Regions from separate parts of the Homo sapiens genome. Here region 2 is linked to region 1. The links come from fine-mapping of genetic effects on plasma protein levels. Region 1 holds a variant in brackets. A gene starts in the other region. All regions are shown on their reverse strands.

Evidence for each region. A credible set is the group of variants that fine-mapping cannot tell apart. PIP is the chance, under the fine-mapping model, that this variant and not a neighbour inherited with it causes the effect. The UK Biobank Pharma Proteomics Project read protein levels with antibody pairs (Olink). The fine-mapping took linkage between variants from a reference panel, not from the people measured, so its PIPs are less certain.
Region 2: it holds the start of TREH, and the variant in region 1 is the best candidate, but not a certain one, in a credible set for the plasma level of the TREH protein (UK Biobank, PIP 0.71).

The regions. Positions count from the first base shown.
Region 1 is chr15:53,430,286-53,442,861 of GRCh38, reverse strand. No RefSeq gene overlaps it. Among named protein-coding and RNA genes, the nearest start is that of LINC02490, 320 kb to the right of the region's middle. The variant G/A (reference allele first, on the strand shown) is at 6,349.
Region 2 is chr11:118,673,150-118,685,725 of GRCh38, reverse strand. TREH (trehalase) reads left to right here and starts at 6,076. Exons shown (of 15, transcript NM_007180.3): 1 at 6,076-6,187. The coding sequence starts at 6,099. RefSeq lists enhancers at 5,525-6,184, 6,185-6,846.

The DNA.
Region 1 (12,576 bases):
TGGGGAAAGAGGATAAGGCAGGAAAAAAGGATGGAGTCAGAAGTGATCTGGAGCCTGCTTAGGCTAATGACAGTGTATCTTTGAATCATCCCTTACATCTTGCCAGCCATTAAATCCCGTATTTATTCCTTGAGAAGTTCTTGCAAGTACATTAATTTCTCCTTGTTTTGCCCACTACCACATTAGTCCACATCCATCTATACTTTACGCCTTAAAAAAAAACAGAAAAATGTATTTCAGGAGAAAATGATGGGTTAGATTTAGTATATGCTAACCTTTAAAAAAGGCAGAATAAGGGATACAGGACTGAGCTGGTGAGTTAGAATTGAAAGTCATCCTTATAATGATAGTATTGAAACCCATGACAGGCTAAATACCCATATAGTGAGATTTTGGAGAAATAAGAGCTGATATTCAAGGACTGAGGGCCTAGATGAAGGAAAAGAATCGAAGAAATCGGGGAGAACCAGGAGAGAGAAACATGGGGGAATCAATTATTTATTGGGGAAAGTTTCATCAAAAGATTCAAATGAATGGTCTTCAGCATTAAGAGCCACAAAGAGAGGAGACAGAGACTGAAGGCCAGATGACTGGATTTAGCCAGAAGAAGGTCATTACAAACCTTGACGAAAATTGCTATGGCACATAATTAAGGATCATAGGCAATACAAAACTTTAGTTTTCTTGAAGATGGTGGCATTAGTTTCCCATAGTCCACACTCTTAAAGCTGTTCGTATGATAAAGCAAGTGGTTAGAAGCCATGGACCTTCCAGTCTAGGTGAGCTACAAGGAGAATTTTCAGCCTGTCTTCTCATTAGTCAAAAAGCCTAATAGCTTGAAGAGGAGACAAATTTTAAATATAAGAAAGAAGAAAACAAATGGAAGCATCTAGACCTAGGTTATGGTTTTAACTTGAGAGAGGAAATGTAGAAGGATATTTTGGCCATCGGTTTGTTGTGCAAACGAGCAGCAATGTTGATTCCAATATAATATTTAGCCTCTTAGGAAATCACTCATCATACCGTCCTTAGCACTGTGCTAGGAGGTTCAGGGGGATGAGTGTCATAATGGTGAAACTCAGAAACCTGGTTTTGCTCTGCTCAATTTGACATTTGGATCAAGAAATTTTACTTATAATCTGACATCTCCGGGTCAGAATGAGTTAAGTTCCTGGTCTCATTTGATGTTTCCCCCAATTTTTGCTTGTTAAAGAAGATGAGCATGAAAGAGATATTAAGGAAACTTTCTGAATCAAAAGTCCCATAACTGTCTTTGGCATCAGTGAGCAGGGCTGATGTGAAGCCTGCAGGGCTAGTACAAGGCAGAGGAGAACAGTCATATTAACTGAGAAGCCTGATTTCCGGGCAGATGAGACTTTGAATAAGAAAATCATGGTTCACTGGGTGGAAAGATGCACAGAAGCTCCCAGAAAAGATTTTGATACATTAGTAATGATAACCAGGCAGCTGGAAAGTGTGGTTTACACAGGTTGGCCTGCCCAAGTTGGATGATATCCTTGAATGGACAAACACTTAGGTGTTACCAGGATACAGATAGAGAACAGTACTGAGTGAATGGGGCATGAAAATGGCGTATTCCATCTTATAAAATATAAATCCACTCCAGAACACATTCCTTCCTACTTGAACACCAACCAGTCTGTAACAATGCAATGGGGAGGAGGGGAAAGCTTTAATTTTACAGGAGCAAGAGTTGCTTTCATACAATGGTGAAATCATAATTTTTGAAATGTAAATTGTTACTTTGGAAAAAAATTAATGTCCATACATACCTATTTCTTTCACCCATTCTCTTTCCCATCATCTTCAGCTTTCTCCATGATATCTGCCATAAGAAGCAGTACTGCATTGTGGTTAAGCACTTTTGCATGGTTTCAGAGTCCATCTTTTTTTTTCTTAAAAAAGGTTTTATCACATTGACACAAGTTACTCAAGCTCTGTAAGCCTAAGGTGATTCATCTATCAAATGACACTAATAATAGTGTCTCCTTCAAAAGTGGTTGTGAGGATTAAATTAAATAATGTAGGTAAAGTACTTAGCACAGGGCACAGAATACAATTGTTGTTCAATAAATAATAATAATAATTTTACTGGCTAATTATTTGTTATAATGAGAATCATTTATTAGCTAATATTACAATGCAATAGAAAGAAAATTGAACCAGAGAATGGGTGAATGTATGCTCTATTTTAAAATAAATCACTCCCCAAATCATAAAATCCCTAGAGGAAAACCTAGGCAATACCATTCAGGACATAGGCATGGGCAAAGATTTTATGACGAAATCACCAAAAGCAATTGCAACAAAAGCTAAAATTGACAAATGGGATCTAATTAAACTAAAGAGCTTCTGCACAGCAAAAGAAACTATCATCAGAGCTAACAGGCAACCTACAGAATGGGAGAAAATTTTTGCAGTCTACCCATCTGACAAAGGTCTAATATCCAGAATTTATAACCAACTTAAACAAATTACAAGAAAAAAACAACTCTGTCAAAAAGTGGGCAAAGGATATGAACAGACACTTTTCAAAAGAAGACATTTATGTGGCCAACAAATATATGAAAAATAGCTCAACATCACTGATCATTAGAGAAATGCAAACCAAAACCACAATGAGATACCATCTCATGCCAGTCAGAATGGTGATTATTAAAATGTCAAGAAACAACAGACACTGGTGAGGCTGTGGAGAAACAGGAACGCTTTTACACTGTTGGTGGGACTATAAATTAGTTCAACCATTGTGGAAGACAGTGTGGCTATTCCTCAAGGATCCAGAACCAGAAACACCACTTGATCCAGCAATCCCATTACTGGGTATATACCAAAATATAAGTCATTCTACTATAAAGATACATGCACACGTATGTTCATTGCAGCACTATTCACGATAGCAAAGACATGGAACCAACCCAATGCCCATCAATGATAGACTGGATAAAGAAAATGTAGTCCATATACACCATGGAATACTATGCAGGTACAAAAAGGAATGAGATCATGTCCTTTGTGGGGACACAGATGAATCTGGAAACCATCATCTTCAGCAAATTAACACAGGAACAGAAAACCAAACACTGCATGTTCTCACTCATAAGTGGGAGTTGAGCAATGAGAACACATGGACACAGGGAGGGCAACAACACATATGGCGACCTGTCATGGGGTCGGGGGGTGAGGGAAGAGACAGCATCAGGACAAATAGCTAATGCATGTGGGGCTTAAAACCTAGGTTATGGGTAGATAGGTGCAGCAAACCACCATGGCTCATGTATACCTATGTAACAAATCTACAGGTTCTGCACATGTATTCTGGAACTTAAAAAAAAAAAAAAGCATAGCAAAAATAAATAAATCACTTCTAACCTTTTGACTTCTGTCTTTGAAACAGGAATAACAGTATCTGTACTAACAGATTCTCCTAGACATTCTGTGAATGAATAGAATTATGAATATTTGGACTTTGTAAAAGATATGTAAGTATAAGATAGGGAAAATAAATAAAAAGTTACCACCACAGCTCTATTTCTGCTTTCACGACTTGCATAAAGGCAAGTAAATATGATATTTAGTTAGTTGAGACTTAATCCGGCTGCCATCATTTATCTAGTAGAAACATAATGGTTATTTTTCAGCTAGAGATTTTCAAACCAGTTGAATGTGTCTATCTTAAGTCAGTCTTTGGTTTTAAAAAAAGCCTTGAAGCTGCATTTTATTTAATTGACTATTGATAATATAATAAAGCTCAATGGATATTTTTAAAAACCTACTATGTACTATGCATAATCTAGAAGTAAATGTTAGATACGAACAGTTAGGACCCTTGAATTGTACCTCTTGTAATAATTTGCAGTGACATTGACCTTATAATATATGTGTTTCCATCGAGTCATCTATTAAAAGACTATTATGATACTTATCTACTATGCAAAGGAATTATAAATTGGTTTGAATGTTAAGCTTCACTCAGGAAAAACACTGTCTAAGCAAAAGCCTCACCATTGTGTCATTCCTGCATTTGGTGCCATGGTTAATAGATGCAAAGTACAAACCACTGAATTATGCATTTGCCAGTACAATTCTGCCCCAGAGCAAGGTACTGTTGGAAGCCAGCCTGGTGGAGCGCAGCAGAAAAAGTGCCTGGTTTTGAAAAACTGATGACAAGAAGACATGATAAGAGATGGCCAGCAGGTTTAGAGAGGCACACTCTGAGGCTGTGTCCACCAACACAGCCCCTGTCACTGGTCCGAGGCCAATATTGTAACCACATTGATTGATTGACTCAGAATGTTAAGCAAGAGTCTCACAGGAAATGGACACAGACAAGCCCCTTCATGGAAAGATGATTTGACCAAATGTAAGAAATCCACGTATGGGACAGAGCACAAGAGAGGGTTCAGCTTTGTTTACAAAAGTCTCTGCTACATGAATGGAAGTCCTGACACAATAAACAACATTGACACATCACTTCGCGGCTTATAAAGCCCTCACACATGCACACAGTCCCATCTCCCTCTTATTGGCCCAAAAGTTCATGGATTTTTGTATCTGTCTACATTCTGGCTCAGCAGAGGAAACAACCCCTTTTCTTCCTGGGCAGCAGGTTCATCTGGTTTTAAGTCAATATAAACTATATGAGCTGCCACCTTTCTTGCCAGCCTGAGCTGTCCAGGGTCATGGCCATCTGCTCTTGTTAGCAGACAAGGTCATAGTGTTCAGACACAGGCTATCCTAGGGCTGCATCCTTAGCACCTTCAATTTATCCATATGTCCTTTTTTGCCTGGGCTTTTTCTTATATGCCACAGGCCTATATAATTCAGCTCCCTAAAATCTTCAGAGTACCTGGGTTCCATTGTCCTTTCTATAGCCTCATAGAATCTGAGAGATGCAAGAGACCTCGGAAGTCATTTAGTCAAAATTTCTCTTCATATTAGGAATCCCCTCTGCAGCATTCCTGACTGCTAGTCATTCAGCCTCACTGTGAATGACCCCAGTAGAAAGGAGTTCACTGTTTTGCAAGGCAGCCCATTCTAGCAGATTACATTTTCCTAAATGACTACAATATTTTTCCATCCCACTTGCTCTTCTTACAATGTGACTTTGAGACTTTCTCATTGAGAGTAAAGCTTAGGGCTTCTCCACTTGTATCTTGACAGAGCTTAGGAAGCCTTTAACCAATGGAGTGCAGGAGAGTGATGCTGTGTATCTTCTGAAGCCAGCTCATAAAAAGACCACAGCGTCCAGCTGGCTCACTCTTTAGAATGTTTGTTCTAGGGAAGCCAGCCAGTGTGCTGTAAGGAAGCCCAAATTTACTACACAAAGAGAACATATGGAAGGGTCCACCTAGAGAAAAACTGGGGCTCCTAGCCAAGATCCAGCACCAGCTATAGATGTGCGAGTAAGGGATACTCCAGATGCTTCCAGCCCCCAGCCTGGGAGCTACCCTATCTGATACCAAGTGGAGCAGACATGAGCTATCCATGTGGATCCTTGTCTATTTAGTTCACGGGGCTTCATATCAAAAAGACCAGTGCTCCAGGATCTGAAGCCAAGGGTCCTCCACGTCATCAGGACCTGATTTAGATGATGAGATCCTGGACCTTAAGCTGATGGTTCAGGGGAATGAGACTTGAGGCCTTGAAGCGGGGGCATGAATATATTTAGCACATAGGAGGGATTTGAATTGCTGTGGCCAGAAGGTAAATTATAGCAGATTGTATTGTCTTGAATGCAACAACATCTCCTTTTCCATTTGCTCATCCTACAATGTGAAATAGAGGCTCCTCCCACTGAGAGGTGAGGTCTATGTTCTCTCCCCTTGAATCTGGGCAGCGGCTTGGGAATCAACTGATAAATTAAGGCAAAAGGGATGCTATGTGACTTCCAAGGCTAGACGTTTTTGGGATGCTTGCTGTACTCCAACAAAGCCTGCCATCATGTTGTGAAGAAGTCTGAATCACCAGGTGGAGAGAACACATGGAGAGGCCCCTACGGAGAGGAACTGAGGCCTCAGCCAATGTCTTGCATCAGCCACCAGATCTGTGAATACAGCAGCCTCCAGATGATTCAAGATGCCCCTGCTGATGCCACATGGTGCAGAGATAAGCTATCTACCTGAAGCTTAGTCCAAACTGTAATTTATGAACAAATACATGCTGTTAGTGTTTTAAGCCACTAATTTTCGGGGCAACTTGTTACGTGACATTAAATCACAAGAACAGAAATAAATTCCTGCATGAGAGATCAGAGCCCCCACAGTAGGAACAGAGCCCTATTGTATTAGAATAAAGACCTGTATTGGAGCAGAACCCTTCATTGTG[G/A]TAAAACTCTGTATGAGGGATAGAGCCCTGCATCAGGGGTTGGAGGTCGGTATTACAGGAGAACCCTGTAATGAGGACATAGCCTTATATGAAGGTAAAGCCCTGTATCAATAGACAGCAATGCAGAGCTCCAGTCAATTGTGTATTCCTGGTAGGTAGGCCTTGGACAGGGTGTATAAATGTCTCAGGATCTTAGGTGCTGAAAAACTGAGATCATAACCTTATTCATCTAGAGGAAAACACTGGATAATAGGTTAGCTCCTGCTCTAGACTTTATGATTCTGAACAGCCATTTATGCATCCAGATACTCATTGTGACTTGCCATTGTGATCAAAAGTGAGGTGTATTTCCAAACTGAAAGCCTTCACTCAGCAGGAGAAAAATCTTTATCATTTGCCTTTTTATATCTTCTAAATCACTCCCTCATTAATCCTCACCAATCCCTGTTCATATCTAGATCTTTCACTGCGGCTATTTCTGTTGGACCAGAGCAAATGTGATTCTTGCAGTACCTAAAAACAAATAGGGGGTTGTGTGTGTATTTTCCTGTCAAAATAAAGTACTGTCAAAGCACAAGATTTACACTTCTTTACAATTACTTTCTGGGCTGCCAAAAAGCACCCTAACTTTCCAGAATTCTTTTTTTTTTTTTTTTTTTTTTTTTTTTGAGACAGTGTCTTGCCCTGTCACCCAGGCTGGAGTGCAATGGCGTGATCTTGGCTCACTGCAACCTCCACCTCTGGGGCTCAAGCGATTCTCCTGCCTCAGCCTCCTGAGTAGCTGGGATTACAGGTGCAAGCCACCACACCCGGCTAATTTTTTTTTTTTTTTCTTTATAGAGATTGAGTTTTACCATGTTGGCCAGGCTGGTCTTGAGCTCCTGACCTCATGATCCGCCCGCCTCAGCCTCCCAAAGTGCTCGGATTACAGGCATGAGCCATCACGCCCAGCCCAGAATTCTTGCAAATAATATCCTTTGCCAGTAACAACCTTCTTCCAAGCACAAAGCAGTATTCTTAACAAACTAATTTTCCATCTGGAGATTTAAAGTGTGATGTTGTTTCACTTAAAATTTCTGATATGCAGTAGTATGAAGACAAGGGATTGGCTAAGTGGTTTGTCAAAAATGCAACAGAGAATCACCCCCTACATCCTCAAATATAGCCCAGTGATCTAAATTATGGAGCAAAACTATCAAATGTCATAGAAATACTGGACTCTAGAAAGTTCTTTCGCTGTTGTTCCTGAATAAGGGGTTTAGATAAAGATGCGGATTATCATATACTGAACTTACTTTTCGAATAAAAGAAATCCCACTTTCCTGGGCCACGTGGCTTCAGATTTACACATGAAGGTGGCACCCAGATTCCAGATGAAAAGGGGCTCTTGGAGCCTCCTCCTCCTCCCCTCGACCCAAATCTCCTTCATTTTCTCCCATTGTTTTGCACATCCTTAACCTTCTTCCCAAAGACAGATCTTTAAGATGCCTTTTTCCCCCCACTAAATTGATCATTTTGATGTCAGGTCATTTTGGAACCAGTGATTAGTGAATATGATAAATTACCGCTAGCAGGTTTGCTTTAGCAGGTTTGAAGTTTTGACGCATTAGTTATTTCCACCCAGGAAAATTATAACTCTGAACAACATCAACTTGTACATCTCCAGATAGAAAGCTGGTTTGTTAAGGATATTGTCCAGTGTTTGGAAATGTAGGTTCTTCGTACTGACAAGATCTAAAAGTCACCTGCTATCTTTTAAAATATTTTCAAATGTGTTCTCCTTAATCTGTCTTATTGAGCCCAGAGGTATTTCTTAGAGTTGAAATCAGGTTGATTTTACCAATTTTGTGTCTCATAAAAATTTCAAGACATAGGGACAGAAGAGTCTATCCTTTTGTTTGAGGTGTGTGTGTGACACAGGATTATTTCTTAGAGGTGTACTTTGGAATTGGCAGGTCGTCTGTCTCTTTGTCCTCATCTATTTTCCCTCCCTCTGAAAGGGTCTTTTAAACAATGGAGTTCACAAACTGCACCTAAAGCAAATGCCTAGATGTTTATATTCCTAGGTTGTGGTTTATACAAATTTTTTTAGTGTTTGTGATTATGGGTGTTGCTCTCTGAGATGTGAGGGGTTTGGGGTAGGCTTGTTTACATGAATTCCTCTCTGGGAATGCACACGGATTCACATTCGAAGCAGCAGGAGGATTTCCAGGGGAGAGAATTTCAGGACAGTGTACAGAATCAGAGCTGGGGGGTCGTGACCTTGCCTATTGATCCAGTCTCTCTAATTTCCACAGCTTGCTGAGGCTTGTTCTTCCAGCCTGCTGGTGTACATTAGAGCAGAAATCCATAACATGGCCATGTTCATCCAAGCACAGGAAGAAACTAAATTAAATGTTAAAAAACAATCTGAGGCTAGAGTTGGAGACAATTCATCATGATCCTAGATGCCAGGCAGGTGGGATGACCAAGGATTCCTCAGCCAATAGCCCCCCAAACAGAATATGGAAGGGCTTTGGTGCCTCATTTGTCAGGTACACAGCAGATAGTCTGAAAACACACCAAGGTCAGCTCTTTTGGCTGCAACATATTTTTCTCAAAAATGAGATATTACACACCCGAAAAGTGTAACTGAAGTAAATTAGCAGCAAGTATTGGGAGAAATAAATGGGATTCCTTATGAAAAGCTTATTTGGGGTAGTGTTTGGCAAATTCTCCAAGGCAGCAATGTTCCTGCTCTGGTCTCGGCATTTTTGTGCCACTGTATTATTCTGGGGCTGGTTGCTTAGATTTATATTGGAGGAGGGAGAACATTTTGCCAGAGTCATGACCTTTCTACTGGGTGACAGAGATTCAGGACAATAGCACCCCAAAATGAAATCCATGTGTTAAAACAAAAGGCACCAGACACTCTGACGTTCTAAAACATCTCTGGATATTCACCCAAAGTAGGCAGAGAAGGCAGCACTTCCTAAGGCGTGTTGGATGGTGCCAAAAGTGCCCTTTTCTGCTTCTTCAGTTGATCTCATTTATATTGAACATGGGGCTCATGCCATTTATTTGCCATTTACTTATTGATTAATCTAAAATGTTTAACCTGAAGAAGGCATCACAAATGGCAGGTTGTTCTGCTGGGAGTTGCCTCAAATGCTGGGATGCATTCCTCAAAATGCCTTTTGCATTATCCAGGTAAAATCTCATTCAAATGAGCAGGGCTGCAGCACAGGAGTGCCTCTTTTAGAGAAACTAGTGCCTGTATGGGTGGGGCCTGCACCAATGATGACTTCAAGGTTGATAGGATTGTATTAAACAATAGCAAATGCAAGGTAGCCCTAGAACAGATTCAGACAGCTCTGCACAGGTAGTACTCCACCAACCTGGAAAGGAAGAACAAAAAATGGTTCTGCAATTGGACTTCAGACTAAAGTTCTATTTGTATGCTAACATCTCACTCGGCTATAACAAGAGTCCTTTTTTGAGGGGAAGGCCACAGGGAGGAAGAGAAATAAAGAGATGCATGAACCTGTTAGTCAATTCAGATTAAACTATAATGTGAGAGCTGAAAGAAGCAGAGAGGAAACTGAGGCTCCAGGAAAACGAAGAACTCACCCTCAGACGCACTAGTCCAGACAGAACACGTCATTTTCTGTAGCTCAGTGGTACAGAGCATGTGCTGTGTATTCGAAAGTCTGTGTTTTGTGACCTGTCTCTATCACTTACTACCTGCATGGACCTCGGAAAAGTTAACTTAGCTGACTGTATTACAGTTTTTTCATCAGTAAACTGGGGATAATAATAGGATTCTAATAATGTTGTGAGAATTAAATGAGATAATGTATCCACAAATCTTCTATCAGAGCCTGGTACATGGTAAACACTCAACAGATAACGTTGTTATTCTGTGCTGCCTTTCCCTGTGAGAGCATCCAGCCCAGCATACCTTTTATTTATGTGTCCGTTTTAAGTAAACACAACCATACAGCAACGTATTCAGATCATAAGTGTATAGTGTGATAAATTTTCCCAAAGTGAAAAAAACCACATGGTCTCTGTCAGGCCTCTGAACCCAAGCCAAGCCATCGCATCCCCTGTGACTTGCATGTATACATCCAGATGGCCTGAAGTAACTGAAGATCCACAAAAGAAGTGAAAAGGCCCTGCCCTGCCTTAACTGATGACATTCCACCATTGTGATTTGTTCCTGCCCCACCTTAACTGAGGGATTAACCCTGTGAATTTCCTTCTCCTGGCTCAGAAGCTCCCCCACTGAGCACCTTGTGACCCCCGCCCCTGCCCACCAGAGAACAACCCCCTTTGACTGTAATTTTCCATTACCTTCCTAAATCCTATAAAACGGCCCCACCCTTATCTCCCTTTGCTGACTCTCTTTTCGGACTCAGCCCACCTGCACCCAGGTGAAATAAACAGCCATGTTGCTCACACAAAGCCTGTTTGGTGGTCTCTTCCCACGGATGCGCATGAAATTTGGTGCCGTGACTCGGATCGGGGGACCTCCCTTGGGAGATAAATCCCCTGTCCTCCTGCTCTTTGCTCCATGAGAAAGATCCACCTACGACCTCAGGTCCTCAGACCGACCAGCCCAAGAAACATCTCACCAATTTCAAATCCGGTAAGAGGCCTCTTTTTACTCTCTTCTCCAGCTTCCCTCACTATCCCTCAACCTGTTTCTCCTCTCAATCTTGGCGCCACACTTCAATCTCTCCCTTCTCTTAATTTCAATTCCTTTCATTTTCTGGTAGAGACAAAGGAGACACGTTTTATCCGTGGACCCAAAACTCCGGCGCCGGTCACGGACTGGGAAGGCAGCCTTCCCTTGGTGTTTAATCATTGCAGGGAAGCCTCTCTGATTATTCACCCATGTTTCAAAGGTGTCAGACCACGCAGGGACACCTGCCTTGGTCCTTCACCCTTAGCCGCAAGTCCCGCTTCTCTCCTTGTCTCTACCCCTTCTCTGCTTTTCTGGGGGAGGGGCAAGTACCCCTCAACCCCCTCTCCTTCACCCTTAGTGGCAAGTCCCGCTTTTCTAGGGAGCAAGAACGCCCAATCCCTTATTTCCACACCCCAACCTCTTATCTCTGTGCCCCAATTCCTTATTTCCATGCCCCAACCCTTTCTCTGCTTTTCTGGAGGGCAAGAAACCCCTACCCCTTCTCCGTGTCTCTACTCTTTTCTCTGGGCTTGCCTCCTTCACTATAGGCAAGCTTCCACCTTCCATTCCTCCTTCTTCTCCCATAGCCTGTGTTCTCAAAAACTTAAAACCTCTTCAATTCTCACCTGACCTAAAATCTAAGCGTCTTATTTTCTTCTGCAATGCCGCTCGACCCCAATACAAACTCAACAGTAGTTCCAAATAGCCGGAAAATGGCACTTTCAATTTTTCCATCCTACAAGATCTAAATAATTCTTGTCATAAAATGGGCAAATGGTCTGAGGTGCCTGACGTTCAGGCTTTCTTTTACACATCAGTCCCTTCCTAGTCTCTGTGCCCAGTGCAACTCGTCCCAAATCTTCCTTCTTTCCCTCCCGTCTGTCCCCTCAGTCCCAACCCCAAGCGTCGCTGAGTCTTTTTAATCTTCCTTTTCTACAGACCCATCTGACCTCTCCCTTCCTCGCCAGGCCAAGCTAGGTCCCAATTCTTCCTCAGCCTCCGCTCCTCCACCCTGTAATCTTTTTATCGCCTCCCCTCCTCACACCTGGTCTGGCTTACAGTTTCGTTCTGTGACTAGCCCTCCCTCACTTGCCCAGCAATTTACTCTTAAAAAGGTGGCTGGAGCCAAAGGCATAGTCAAGGTTAAGGCTCCTTTTTCTTTATCCCAAATCAGAAGCTTTTAGGCTCTTTTTTTTATCAAATATAAAAACCCAGCCCAGTTCATGGCTTATTCGGCAGCAACCCTGAGACGCTTTACAGCCCTAGACCCTAAAAGGTCAAAAGGCCGTCTTATTCTCAATATACATTTTATTACCCAATCTGCTCCCGACATTAAATAAAACTCCAAAAATTAGAATCTGGCCCTCAAACCCCGCAACAGGACTTAATTAACCTCACCTTCAAGGTGTACAATAATAAAAAAAAAGTTGCAATTCCTTGCCTCCACTGTAAGACAAACCCCAGCCACATCTCCAGCACACAAGAACTTCCAAACGCCTGAACTGCAGCAGCCAGGCATTCCTCCAGAACCTCCTCCCCCAGGAGCTTCCTACAAGTGC
Region 2 (12,576 bases), not on the chromosome of region 1:
GAGCTGCCTCCAAAACTGGAGACAGACAGGCAGATCCAGAGAGTCACAACTTACCAGAGTAGACACCTCCACACTGGGTTTCTTTTACCCAGTACTGGTTTGGTTTCAAGAAAAAACTAGAAGTCTTACTAAAAGGCAGAAAATACCACTTGAAGCGACAGAGCGAGTAACAGAACCAGACTCAACTATAGCGGGGATGTTGGAATTATCAGGCCGGAAATTTGAAACAACTATGATTAACATGCCAAGGGTGCTCATGGAAAAAGTAGACAACATGCAAGAACAGATAAGTAATTTAAGCAGAGGGATGAAAATTCTAAGAAAAAAACAAAGAAGAAGTACAATGAGGAGAAAAAAACACAAAGGAAGTGCCTTTGATCAGCTCTTTAGTAGACTGGACAAAGCTGAGGAAAGAATCCATGAACTTGAGGATATGTCAATAGAAACTTCCAAAACTCAAAAGCAAAGAGAGGCAAGACTGAAACAGACAGAACAGAATATCCAAAACTGTGGGACAATGACAAAAGTCATCACATATGCATTAATGGGAATACAGAGCAAGAAAGAGGGAACTGAAGATACATTTGAAACAATAATGAATGAGAATTTCCCCAAATTTGTATCAGACACCAAACCACAGATCCAGGAAGCTCAGAAAATACTAAGGAAGACAGATGCCCCCCAAAAAGAAGAAAAAATCAACACCTAGGCATATTATATTCAAATTGCAGAAATTCAAAGATAAAAAGTCTTGGAAGAGGGCAGAGGAGTAAAAAAAACCTTACCTATGGAGGACCAAGGATAAAAATAACACCAGACTTCTTAGAAACCATGCAAGGAAGAAGAGAGCCATGTGAGATATTTAAAGCATTGACAGAGAAGAAGACCCCACCAACCTATAATCCCTAGAATCTCTTTCCTGCAAAACCATCCTTCAAAAGTGATGGAGAGGCCAGCACAGTGGCTCATGCCTGTAATCCCAGCCCTTTGGGAGGCCGAGGCAGGCAGATGGCTTTGAGCTCAGGAGTTTGGGACCAGCCTAGGCAACATGGTGAAACCCCGTCTCTACAAAAAAAATACAAACTTTAGTGGTGGCACATGCCTGTGGTCCCAGCTACTTTGGGGGGCTGAGGCTGGAGGATCACTGGAACCTGAGAGGCGGAGATTGCAGTGAGCCGAGATAGCACCACTGCACTCCAGCCTGGGCAACAGAGCAAGAATCTGTCTTAAAAAAAAAAAAAAAAAAAGAAAAGAAAAGAAAGAAAAGAAAAAGAAAAAAAGGAAAAAAAAAGTGATGGAGAAATGAGAACTTTCACAAGCCAACAAAAATTGAGAGAATCTGTAGACCTGTCTTGCAAGAAGTATTTAAAAAAAAAAAAACTTCTTCAGAGAAAAGAAAGATGATATAAGTTAGAAACTTTGAACTACATAAACAAGGGAAGAGCTTTAGAGAAGGAATAAGTGAAGGTAAAATAAAAGCTTTTACTTTTCTTATCCTTAGTTAATCTAACAGATAATGGTTTGTTCAAAATAAAACAGGGCATTTATCCAAAATGCTTGATACCAGGAGAATTTTGGATTTTGGATTTTTTTTTTTTGAATTTTGAAATATTTGCAATATACTTACTGGTTCAAAATCCCAAATCTGATCATCCAAAATCTGAAATGCTTCAGTGAGCATTTCCTTTGATCATTATGTCTGTACTCAACAAGTTTTGGATTTTGGAGCATTTCAGATTTTGGGTTATCAGATTTGGGGTGCTCAATCTGTAATAGCAACTGTGTATTCAACGATTCTAGTTTATGGATAAGGGAACTGAATGACAGCAATGATAGAAGGGACAGGAGGGAGAAGTTAAGACTACTTTGTTATCATAAGGTACTTGCACTACCATGAAATGTAGTGTTATTTGAGTAGACTTGGTTAGTTGTAAACATATAATACTAAAAAAAGAACTGCTGGAGGCCGGGCGTGGTGGCTCATGCCGGTAATCCCAGAACTTTGGGAGGCTGAGGTGGGTGGATCATGAGGTCAGGAGTTCAAGAACAGCCTGGCCAATATGGTGAAACCCCATCTCTACTAAAAATACAAAAATTAGCCGGGTGTGGTGGTGGGCGCCTGTAGTCCCAGTTACTCAGGAGGCTGAGGCAGGAGAATCACTCGAATCCAGGAGGCGGAGGTTGCAGTGAGCCAAGATCATGCCATTGCACTCCAGCCTGGGTGATAGAGCAAGACTTCGTCTCAAAAAAAAAAAAAAAAAACACTACTGGCTGGGCATGGTGGCTCATACCTGTAATCCTAGCACTTTGAGAGGCCAAGGTGGGAGGATTGCTTGAGCCCAGGAGTTTGAGACCAGCCTGCGCAATATAATGAGGTGTTCCCCCAGAACAAAGCCAGTCTGCATAATGGGCAGAAGATCTGAATCACTATAAACCTTGCTTAAAAGAAGACATACAAGTCGCAAACAGGTATATGAAAAGGTGCGCTACATAACTGATCATCAGAGACATGCAAATCAGAACTACAATGAGATATTATCTCACTACGGTTAAAATGGCTTTTATCCAAAAGACAGGCAATAACAAATGCTGGTGAGGATGTGGAGAAAAGGAACCCTCATATACTGTTGGTGAGAATGTAAGTTAGTACAATCACTGTAGAGTCATGTGTTTTTTTAAAGAACATTGGCTGGGCACGTTGGCTCATGCCTGTAATCCTAGCACTTTGGGAGGCCAAGGCGGGTGGATCACCTGAGGCCAGGAGTTCGAGACCAGCCTGGCTAACACGGTGAAAACCCATCTCTACTAAAAATACAAAAAGTAGCTGGGTGTGGTGGTGGGCGCCTGTAATCCCAGCTATTCACGAGGCTGAGGCAGGAGAATCGCTTAAACCTAGGAGGCAGAGGTTGCAGTGAGCCAAGATCATGCCACTGCACTCCAGCCTGGGCAACACAGCGAGACTCCATCTCAAAAAAAAAAAAAAAGATGTTTAATTTTATGTGTCAACATGGCTAGGCAAAGGTATCCAGATAGTTGGTCAAGCATTATTCTAGATGTTTCTGTGAAGATATTTTTTAGATGAAAATAACATTTAAATTTGTAGACTTTGAGTAAAGCAGGTTACCCTCCCTAACTTGGATGGGCCTTATCCAATCAGTTGAAGACTTTAATTTGAAAAAGACTGACCTCCCCAGAAGAAGAAGGAATTCTCTCAGCATGCTGCCTTCAGACTTGAACTGCAGCTTCTTCCCTGTTTCTCCAGCCTGCCAGCCTACCCTAGAGATTTTGGACTTGCCAGCTACCTCTCAAACTCTCTCTCTCTACCCCCATCCCCCATATATGTATTGTTTCTGCCTAATACGGTCCAGGACCAGATGGCTTCATTGGTAAATTCTACCAAACATTTAAAGAATTAACAATCCTTCTCAAACACTTCCACAAATAGAAGAGGGGCATATTTCCTAACTCATGCTATGAGGCTAACATTACCCTGATATTAAAACCAGATAAAGACATCACAAGAGGGCTGGGCATGGTGGCTCACACTTGGGGAGAAACACTTTGGGAGGCCAAGGCGGGAGGATCACTTGAGGCCAGGAGTTCAAGACCAGCCTGGGCGACACAGTCAGATGTAGTCTCTACAAAAAAATTTAAAAATTACCCAGGCGTGGTGGCATGCACCTGTAGTCCTGGCTACTCAGAAGGTTGAGGCCAGATGACCACTTGAGCCCCAGGAAGTCGAGGTTGTGGTGAGCTGTGTTCATGCCACTGTATTCCAGCCTGCTGGGTGATGGAGCAAGACTATGTGTCCAAAAAAAAAAAAAAACAAAACAAAACAAGGAAAGAAAATTACAGTCAAATATGCTCTATACATATTGATGCAAAATTCCTCAAAAAAATACTCGCAAGCCAAAACCAACAGTTTATTAAAAGGATTAGACATCATGACCAAGTGAGATTTATCCAAAGAATGCAAGGGTGGTTGCACAGCATTGTGAATGTAATAAAAGGAAATTGAATTGTACACTTAAAAATTGTTGACCAGGCATGGTGGCTCACACCTGTAATCCCAATACATTGGGAGGATGAGGCAGGAGGATTGCTTGAGCTCAGGAGTTCCACACCAGCCTGGACAACATAGGGAGACCCAATCTCTAAAAAAAAAAAAATTATTTTTAATTTAAAAATTAGTTGGGCGTGGTGGCATGTGCCTGTGGTCCCAGCTGCTCAGGAGGCTGAGGTGGGAGAATCCCTTAAACCTGAGAGATCAAGGCTGCAGTGAGCTGTGATGGAGCCACTGCATGCCAGCCTGGGCAACAGAGCGAGACCCTGTCTCAAAAAACAAAGCAAACAAAAAAAACAATGCCAGCTGCCCACATTACTGGGTGGAGCTATCTGAACCTTTACTAGTTCAGAGTGGTGCCTGATTCATGAGTCATTTCTTTGCTTGAATAAATGGTTAAATTTAATTTGTCTAAGGTTTTTCTTTTTAATAGCAGTAAACACTGCTCAGGTGCCACAACTGACATCCTTAACTGCAAACCTAAGTCCTTCAGGAGAGGTCATGCCTATCATTAAACTCCATGTGCCTTGCCCACCCCCTGTCCCCTGTCCCTTCAGCTCACCTTCCATATGTTGAGGGGATGAGCCTCCTAAAGTAACCGAATCTGCTTTTTTTTTTTTTTTTTTTTTTTTGAGACAGAGACTTACTCTGTCGCCCAGGCTGGAGTGCAGTGGCATGATCTCGGCTCACTACAACCTCTGTCTCCCGAGTTCAAGCGATTCTCCCACCTCAGCCTCCTGAGGAGCTGGGATTACAGGTACCCGCCATCATGCCCAGCTAATTTTTGTATTTTTGTAGAGACGGGGTTTCACCATGTTGGCCAGGCTGGTCTTGAACTCCTGACCTCAGGTGATCCACCCGCCTCGGCCTCCCAAAGTGGTGGGATTACAGGCATGAGCCACTGCACCCAGCCTGAATCTGCTTCTTAAGCTCACAAACTTCTCTGCTGGTTCCACTTTGGGGAATTACAAGGAATTACATTCCTTGGCTTGGCAAAGACCATTTCCAGACTGGTGCCAACATGTTCCTCCAGTCTATCTCAAAACCCTTCCCTGCATGAACACCAAGTTCTCTGCAGCTAGGCTGAGGGGTTTGCTCTTCTCTTCACATGCTCTGCATACATTGTAGTGGTCTCCAGCCCATTTCCCTTGGCAAACTCCTATGCGGTCATCAAGACTCATTAGGACTGGCGCAGTGGCTCACGCCTGTAATCCCAGCACTTTGGGAGGCCAAGGCGAGCAGATCATGAGGTCAAGAGATTGAGACCATCCTGGCCAACACAGTGAAACCCCGTCTCTACTAAAAATACAAAAATTAGCTGGGCGTGGTGGCGGGCACCTGTAGTCCCAGCTATTCAGGATGCTGAGGCAGGAGAATTGCTTGAACCCGGGAGGCGGAGGTGGCAGTGAGCTGAGATCACGCCACTGCACTCCAGCCTAGCGACAGAGTGAGACTCAGTCTCAAAAAAAAAAAAAAAAAGACTCATTACAAATGACACACTATTGTGGGTCTCCCTTAGTCCTCCCCAGACAGAATGGTTCTACTGTCCTGTGCTTCCGCTGTATCTCTTGCAGATAACAGTGAGAGGCCCTGAATTTCACACCACACCAGGGACAGGATCTTGAGCCATTCCATTTGAAATGTTAAGGGAAATGGTAACTCTCTGAGGTTGGTGGTCTTGGGGCCACCCAAGGAACCTGGCATCCAGGTTACAGGTGTGTGGCCTCGACTGTGTCCCTGGCCTTTGGGTGCCCACTCCCCACCCCCACCACCATGCTCTGAGGGAAGGGCCTGAGCCATTGGCACCAGCTGAGACTGTGAAATAGAAGAGGCAAAGTAGAAGCAAGGGAGGTGGCCACTGTGCCCTGAGAGCAGGAGGGGCAAGCGGGCCACACACAGACCAAGCACACGTCCCCTCAGGTGGCCACGCCTCAAAGGCTGGACTTTGGCCGACTTGGACAGGCAGGTGAGCCAGGCTGTGCCCAGCAAGCCGAAGGTGCCTGGGCTTGCTCATTCAGTCACAGTCACAGCCACCATGCCAGGGAGGACCTGGGAGCTGTGCCTGCTACTGCTGCTGGGGCTGGGACTGGGGTCCCAGGAGGCCCTACCCCCACCCTGTGAGAGGTAGGGGTGTGGGGAAGGCAGCAGGGGAGGATGGCAATAAGAGGGAGGCTGGGATGAGATCTCAAGCTCTGGGGTCGGTACTTCAGAGGGAAAGGAAGAGATTATAAAGGAAGGAAAGAGTAGGGAAGAGAAGAAAATGAGAATTCCTATGTAGCAGGCTCTGTGCTGGGCACTGCACCTGCAGTCCGTTTTTTTTGTTGTTGTTGTTAGAGTCTTGCTCGGTCGTCCAGATGGAGTACAGTGGCACCATCTCCACTCACTGCAGCCTAGACCTCCCGGGTTCGAGAGATTCTCGTGCCTCAGCCTCCTGAGTAGCTGGAATCACAGGCATGCACCACCACGCCCAGCCTGTCATTGATTTTTACCAAAATTTTCCACCGTTGGAAGGGACATTAGGCTTGGCGACTGTGCTGGGAATACAAGCGTGAGCCACCGCCCCCTGTCGGGACCTGCAGTCCTGATACCAGACGCAGCTGCCAGAGCCTGGCCTGAGGTCCAAGAGCCTGCTGGCCAGAGCCCGCCCTCCCTTCCTCTCCTCCTCCAAGCTGCCCCTTGAACTGTGCAGGCCTCTTCTCAGGATTGTTCTAGCAAACTTTCTGCTCCAGCTTCCTAGTCTGGGTGTGAGAGGCAGCCTAAGGGCCTGAAGACAGCACTTGGGCTTGAGCCCTGACCCTCATATTCTCTCTGTGACCCAGGGCAGGTCAAGGCTCTTTCCTGAGCCTGAGTTTCCATCACCAGGGACAGAGATGAGTGACCCTGTCCTGTCTCCTGGACTCAGGCGATGTCCACCCTTCGTTCCACATGGATTTATGGAGCTGTGGCCACATCAGCCACTTTACCAGCTCCTGCAAGAACAATAATAATAGAAGAAAAACAGCTGGGCACGGTGGCTCATGCCTGTAATCCCAGCACTTTGGGAGGCCAAGGTGGGAGCTATCATCTGAGGTCAGGAGTTCGAGACCAGCCTGGCCAACATGGTGAAACCCCATCTCTATGAAAAATACAAAATTAGCCGGGCATGGTGGCGCACGCCTGTAATCCCAGCTACTCGGGAGGCTGAGGCAGGAGAGTCGCTTGAACTTGGGATGTGGAGGTTGCAGTGAGCCAAGATCATGCCATTGCACTCCAGTCGGGGCAACAAGAGCAAAACTCTATCTCAAATAATAATAATAATAATAATAGAAGCAAAACAGTAACAGAAGCACAGTTTGAAGTAGAGAGAAGTTAGGGCCCGCTGGTGTGGGTGAGCAGAGGGTGTGTTAGAGAGGATGGGGAGGGACGGTGTCTCTGAGGAGGTGATGTGTAAGCAGAATTGTGGCAGGAACCATTGCTGAGCTGATCTGGGAGAGGACAGTCCAGGCATGGAAAGGGCCATGCAGAGGCCCTGACGCACTGTTCAGGGATTGGGACGAAGGCCTGTGTGATTGGGGCAGAGTGGGAACAGGTCCGGGGAGAGCGGGGCTCCAGGCAACAAGGTTTGGGCTTGGGTTCCAGTGGTTAGACTAGAGACAGAGACAAGGGGTTCAATAGAGGGTGTGTGTTACAGGGAGAGTTGACAGTGCTTGCCCATGACAATTGTGGAATATAAAGGGGAAAAGTGTACCTGGGATAATTAATAGGTTTTGTCCTGAGCAATTGTAATGAGGACTTCAGAGAGGCTGGGTGGTCCAGTGCTTTGTCAAGCATTAGGCTGTTTGCCAAATGTAGGGGAAGATGACTTTACTGGTGTTCCCTAAGACCAACCTCAGGCCAGTGATTCACTAACACTTCCAAATGGTTATACCATGATTATGGTTTCATTTTTTTTCTTTTTTTGAGACAGAGTCTCGCTCTGTCGCCAGGTTGGAGTGCAGTGGTGCAATCTCGGCTCGCTGCAACCTCCACCTTCTGGGTTCAAGCGATTCTCCTGCCTCAGCCTCCCCAGTAGCTGGGACTACAGGCACCTGCCACCACGCCCAGCTAATTTTTGTATTTTTAGTAGAGACAGAGGTGTTGCCATGTTGGCAAGAATGGTCTCAATCTCTTGTCCTTGTGATCCGCCTGCCTCAGCCTCCCAAAGTGCTGGGATTACAGGCATGAACCACCGTGCCCAGCCTTGATTATGGTTTCTTACAGTGAAAAGATACATGTTAAAGCCATCAAAGGTGAAATATTCTAGGGCCAAGTCCAGGAGAAAATAATCTCAATCTTCCAGTTTTTCCTCTCCCAGTGGATTTATATGGACAGGACTTGATTTTTCCAGCAATAACATGTGACAGCACGCATGAAGTATTGCCAATCACAAAAGCTCACCTGAGTCTTGGTGTCCAGTGTTTTTATTGGAGGTCAGTGATGAAAGCGTGGACTACCTGTGTGGCTGACCTCAGTTACTCACTCTCCAGAGTTCAAACTGATACTGGGCGGCCAAAGGCCCCTGCCACAAATCACATTATTAGCATCAAATATCTGGCATGGCCCAAGGCCCCAGAAAAACAAAGACTTATCAGGCAGCATATTTTGGTAATTTAAATCTCATCTCTCAGGGCTGGTCACAGGCCAGAATTTTCTCTGAAATGTGCAGGGTTTGAACACAGCAGACCTGCTGAGTCAATCCTTTCATGTATAAGCCACTTCTTGTATAATGAGGAATTAGTTTCATTTTTGTCTTGGGTTCCTCCAAAGTAACCTCTAAGCTCCTTGGAATCTCCCAAGTGATAGGAATGTCTGTTATTAATAGTGGTCCCTGATTAGTGTTTTTTTGTTGTTGTTTTTTTCTTTCTTTTTTTTTTTGAGACAGCAATCTAGCTCTGTTGCCCAGGCTGGCAGTGCAGTGGTGAGCATTTTGGCTCAATGCAACCTCTGCCCCCAGGGTTCAAGTGATTCTCCTGCCTCAGCCTCCCAAGTAGCTGGGACTATAGGCACGCACCACCACGCCTGGCTAATTTTTGTATTTTTAGTAGAGACGGGGTTTCACCATGTTGGCCAGCTGGTCTTAAACTCCTGACCTCAAGCAATCCACCCACCTTGGCCTCCCAAAGTGCTGGGATTACAGGCATGAGTCACTGCACCTGGCCTGATTGCTTTTTGAGACAGGGTCTCACTCTGTCACCCAGGCTGGAGTGCAGTGGTGCAGTCATGGCTCACTGCAGCCTCAATCTCTCTGGGCTTAGGTGATCCTCCCACCTTGGCCTCCTGAATAGCTAGGACTAGGTGTGTGCCACCATGCCTGGCTAATTTTTGTATTTTTTGTAGAGATGGGGTTTTGCCATGTTTCCCAGGCTCTTGGTAGCTTTTGTTAATGAGGTGACTTATGGTGGGTCCCTAGACAGCTTCTGCTAACAAGACGACTCCACATGAAGGCAGGCCGTGCCAGAAAGGCCAAGCATGTGTGTAGAGGGTTGGGGTTTTGGTCCACATGATATCAGCCCAACTTCTCAACCTTCAGGGAGGAGAAGGGGCTGGAGATGGAGTTCAATTACATGATCAATGATTCAATCAATCATGCGTATGTCATGAAACCCCAATAAAAACTCTGGACTTCAAAGTCCTGGTAAGTAGGCTGGGCACAGTGGCTCATGCCTGTAATCCCAACACTTTGGGAGGCCGAGGTGGATGGATCACTTGAGGCCAGGCATTTGAGAGCAGCCTGGCCAACATGGTGAAACCCTGTCTCTACCAAAAATGCCAAAAATTAGCAGGGTGTGGTGGTGCATGCCTGTAATCCCAGCTATTGAGGAGGCTAAGACGTGAGAATCATTGACCTGGGAGGTGGAGGTTGCAGTGAGTTGAGATTGCACCACTGCACTCCAGCCTAGGTGACAGAGTGAGACCCTGTCTCAACAAACAAACAAATAAAACAAATAAATACCAAGTCCTGGTTGGTGAACACATTGATGAGCCAGGAGGGGAAACGTCCTGGTTCCATGGGGAAAGGACACAGAAGCTCTACATTCAGGGCCCCCCTAGACCTTGCCCCATGCACCCCTTCATTTGGCTGATCCTGGCTTGTATTCTTATAATAAAACTATAGCCCTAAGCATAACCGTAAGCTTTTCTGAGTCCTGTGAGTTGTTCTAGCAAATTATCAAATCTGAAAGGGTTATGGGAACCCCTACATTTGTAGCCACTTGGTAATAAGTGCAGGTGGCCTGGGGACCCCTGAACTTGTGGCTGGTGTCAGAAGTGAGGCCGTCTCACTCAGGACCGTGCCCTTAACCTGAGTGTGGATTCTGCACTAACTCCCGATGGTTAGTGCCAGGATTAAATTGCAGTATTGCAGTTGGTGTCAGAAAATGTGGATTTACTAGAATGACCCTGACTCACTGAAACATATGGGTTGGGAAAAGAAAAGTTGAAAGGGCAGGGGATGAGAAACCTTTCATTCTCGAGTGGATACAGGGTCACCCATGGTGTGAAGAGCAGTCATGCTGCAATCAGTTACTGGAGGTAAAAGTTACCAATGGAAATTAGAGGTGATTGATCACTAACTTTTGGGGAGTTGACTCATGTGCATAGGGAAATGTATACTAAGAAGAAGAAAAGCAAATATACAATCCCTATAGACTTTTATCTCTAATAGCCAAACTGAAAGTAAAAGATGGGCCATGCTTAGATTCTGGTCAGTGGAATTACAACCTCCAGTCCTGCACTGTGGTACCAAAAACACCTGCTGAAGTCCTGATGGGCACTGCAATGAGATTGAGAGAATATAAAAATGCAGCCAGGTGCAGTGGCTCACGCCTGTAATCCCAGCACTTTGGGAGGCAGAGGTGGGTGGATCATCTGAGATCAGGAGTTCAAGACCAGCCTGACCAACATGGAGAAACCCTGTCTCTACTAAAAATACAAAATTAGCCGGGTGTGGTGGTGCGCACCTGTAATCCCATCTACTCAGGAGGCTGAGGCAGGAGAATCACTTGAACCCAGGAGGTGGAGGTTGCAGTGAGCTGAGATCTCGCCATTGCACTCCAGCTTGGGCAACAAGAGCGAAACTCCATCTCAAAAACAAAACAAAACAAAACAAAAAAGTGGTATGCGCTTGAACAGGTTTTATGTGGAGTGGTTGCATCTCTTCTACCTGAATGTATTACAGGGATGGATATTGTATCTGACCAGGAAATATTTCCACTACCTAGTATTGTAAAACAGAAGGTATGGAAATCCACTCATCAAGCAATATTGATTAGACATTCCAAATGGGAACCAATAAGATTGCCCAAGTCCACAGAGATTGTTAGCCTTCTCTGGAGCATAGACTGGACTTTATAGCAAAAGTCTTAGAGCACCTCCTGGCACGAGTGCTGAGACTTTGGACTAGATAATTTCCATGTGAGAGGTAATTATTAGCTTGCTATCAGACATTATTTGAAATTGCCCCTATGACTGAAGGATGTAAGATAATCTTGAAACCTGAAATACCTATAATATCTTGGGGAAATGCTCACAGAGAGTGGGCAGGGCCCAGAAGAGTTCCATAATGAAATGGAAATGGCTGGATCAGGAACAAGCTCCTGGGGGAATGCAGTTACTCAGTGTATTCAAAAGCAGAGAGACTCTTTTCCCCTAGGACTGACTTTGGACCCACTCAAAGAGTTGTTAGATTCTATTGCCAATTGGACAGTGCCCTATTGACAGCTCTCGATTGACCAACAAAGCTGTTTGGCTTATGGATGGCAGTCCCAAGGTGAATGAACAGCCTATTGTTTGGAAGGTTGTTACTCTGATCAAAGAAGGCAAAAACAAATCAGCTCTGTGGGTTGAATTGCATACTGTTTAGGTTTTTACTAACTCTTGGACAGTGGCCAATGGCCTGGCCATATGGTCAGGCGGAAGGACAATGGGAACCTTGTCTATATGGAAATCACAACAGGAATTTTAGGAGTGCATTAAAGCAGGTTATGTTGATGTCCATCAGAAGGACCCCTTTCCAGGATCAAAAGGAACTGGGGCAACAAGCAGACATCCCTGCGTGCTCACCTGAGGTGGCCACGTGTGTTCATGAAATAAATGGACATTGCAGGGCAGCAGCCATGCAGAGAAGAGCTGAATTTAGACTTAGTCCTGTTTTCCCGCTGAGGCACAAAATGCCAGTAAGTACTTTTCTGTCTGCCAAAAAGAGAAAGACCGCACATGGCTGTGGGAAGATGACCTTGGAGGGAAGGCCCTGCACATACCTGGCAAGGTGGACTGATGCTGGTAGGCCTGGAGGGCTACCTGGGTCCTGACAAGAGTAGACACTGATTCTGGACTGGGCTTTGCATGGCCAGTGGTAGATGCAAATGCTCAAAATACTGACACTGTAAAAGGGTCAGAACAAAAGATACTCCACCAATTTGAACCACTGAGTTACATTTCTTCAGATCAAGAAACACTTTCATCTTCAGAGGAGTGGTTCAATAGAGAACTGGGAT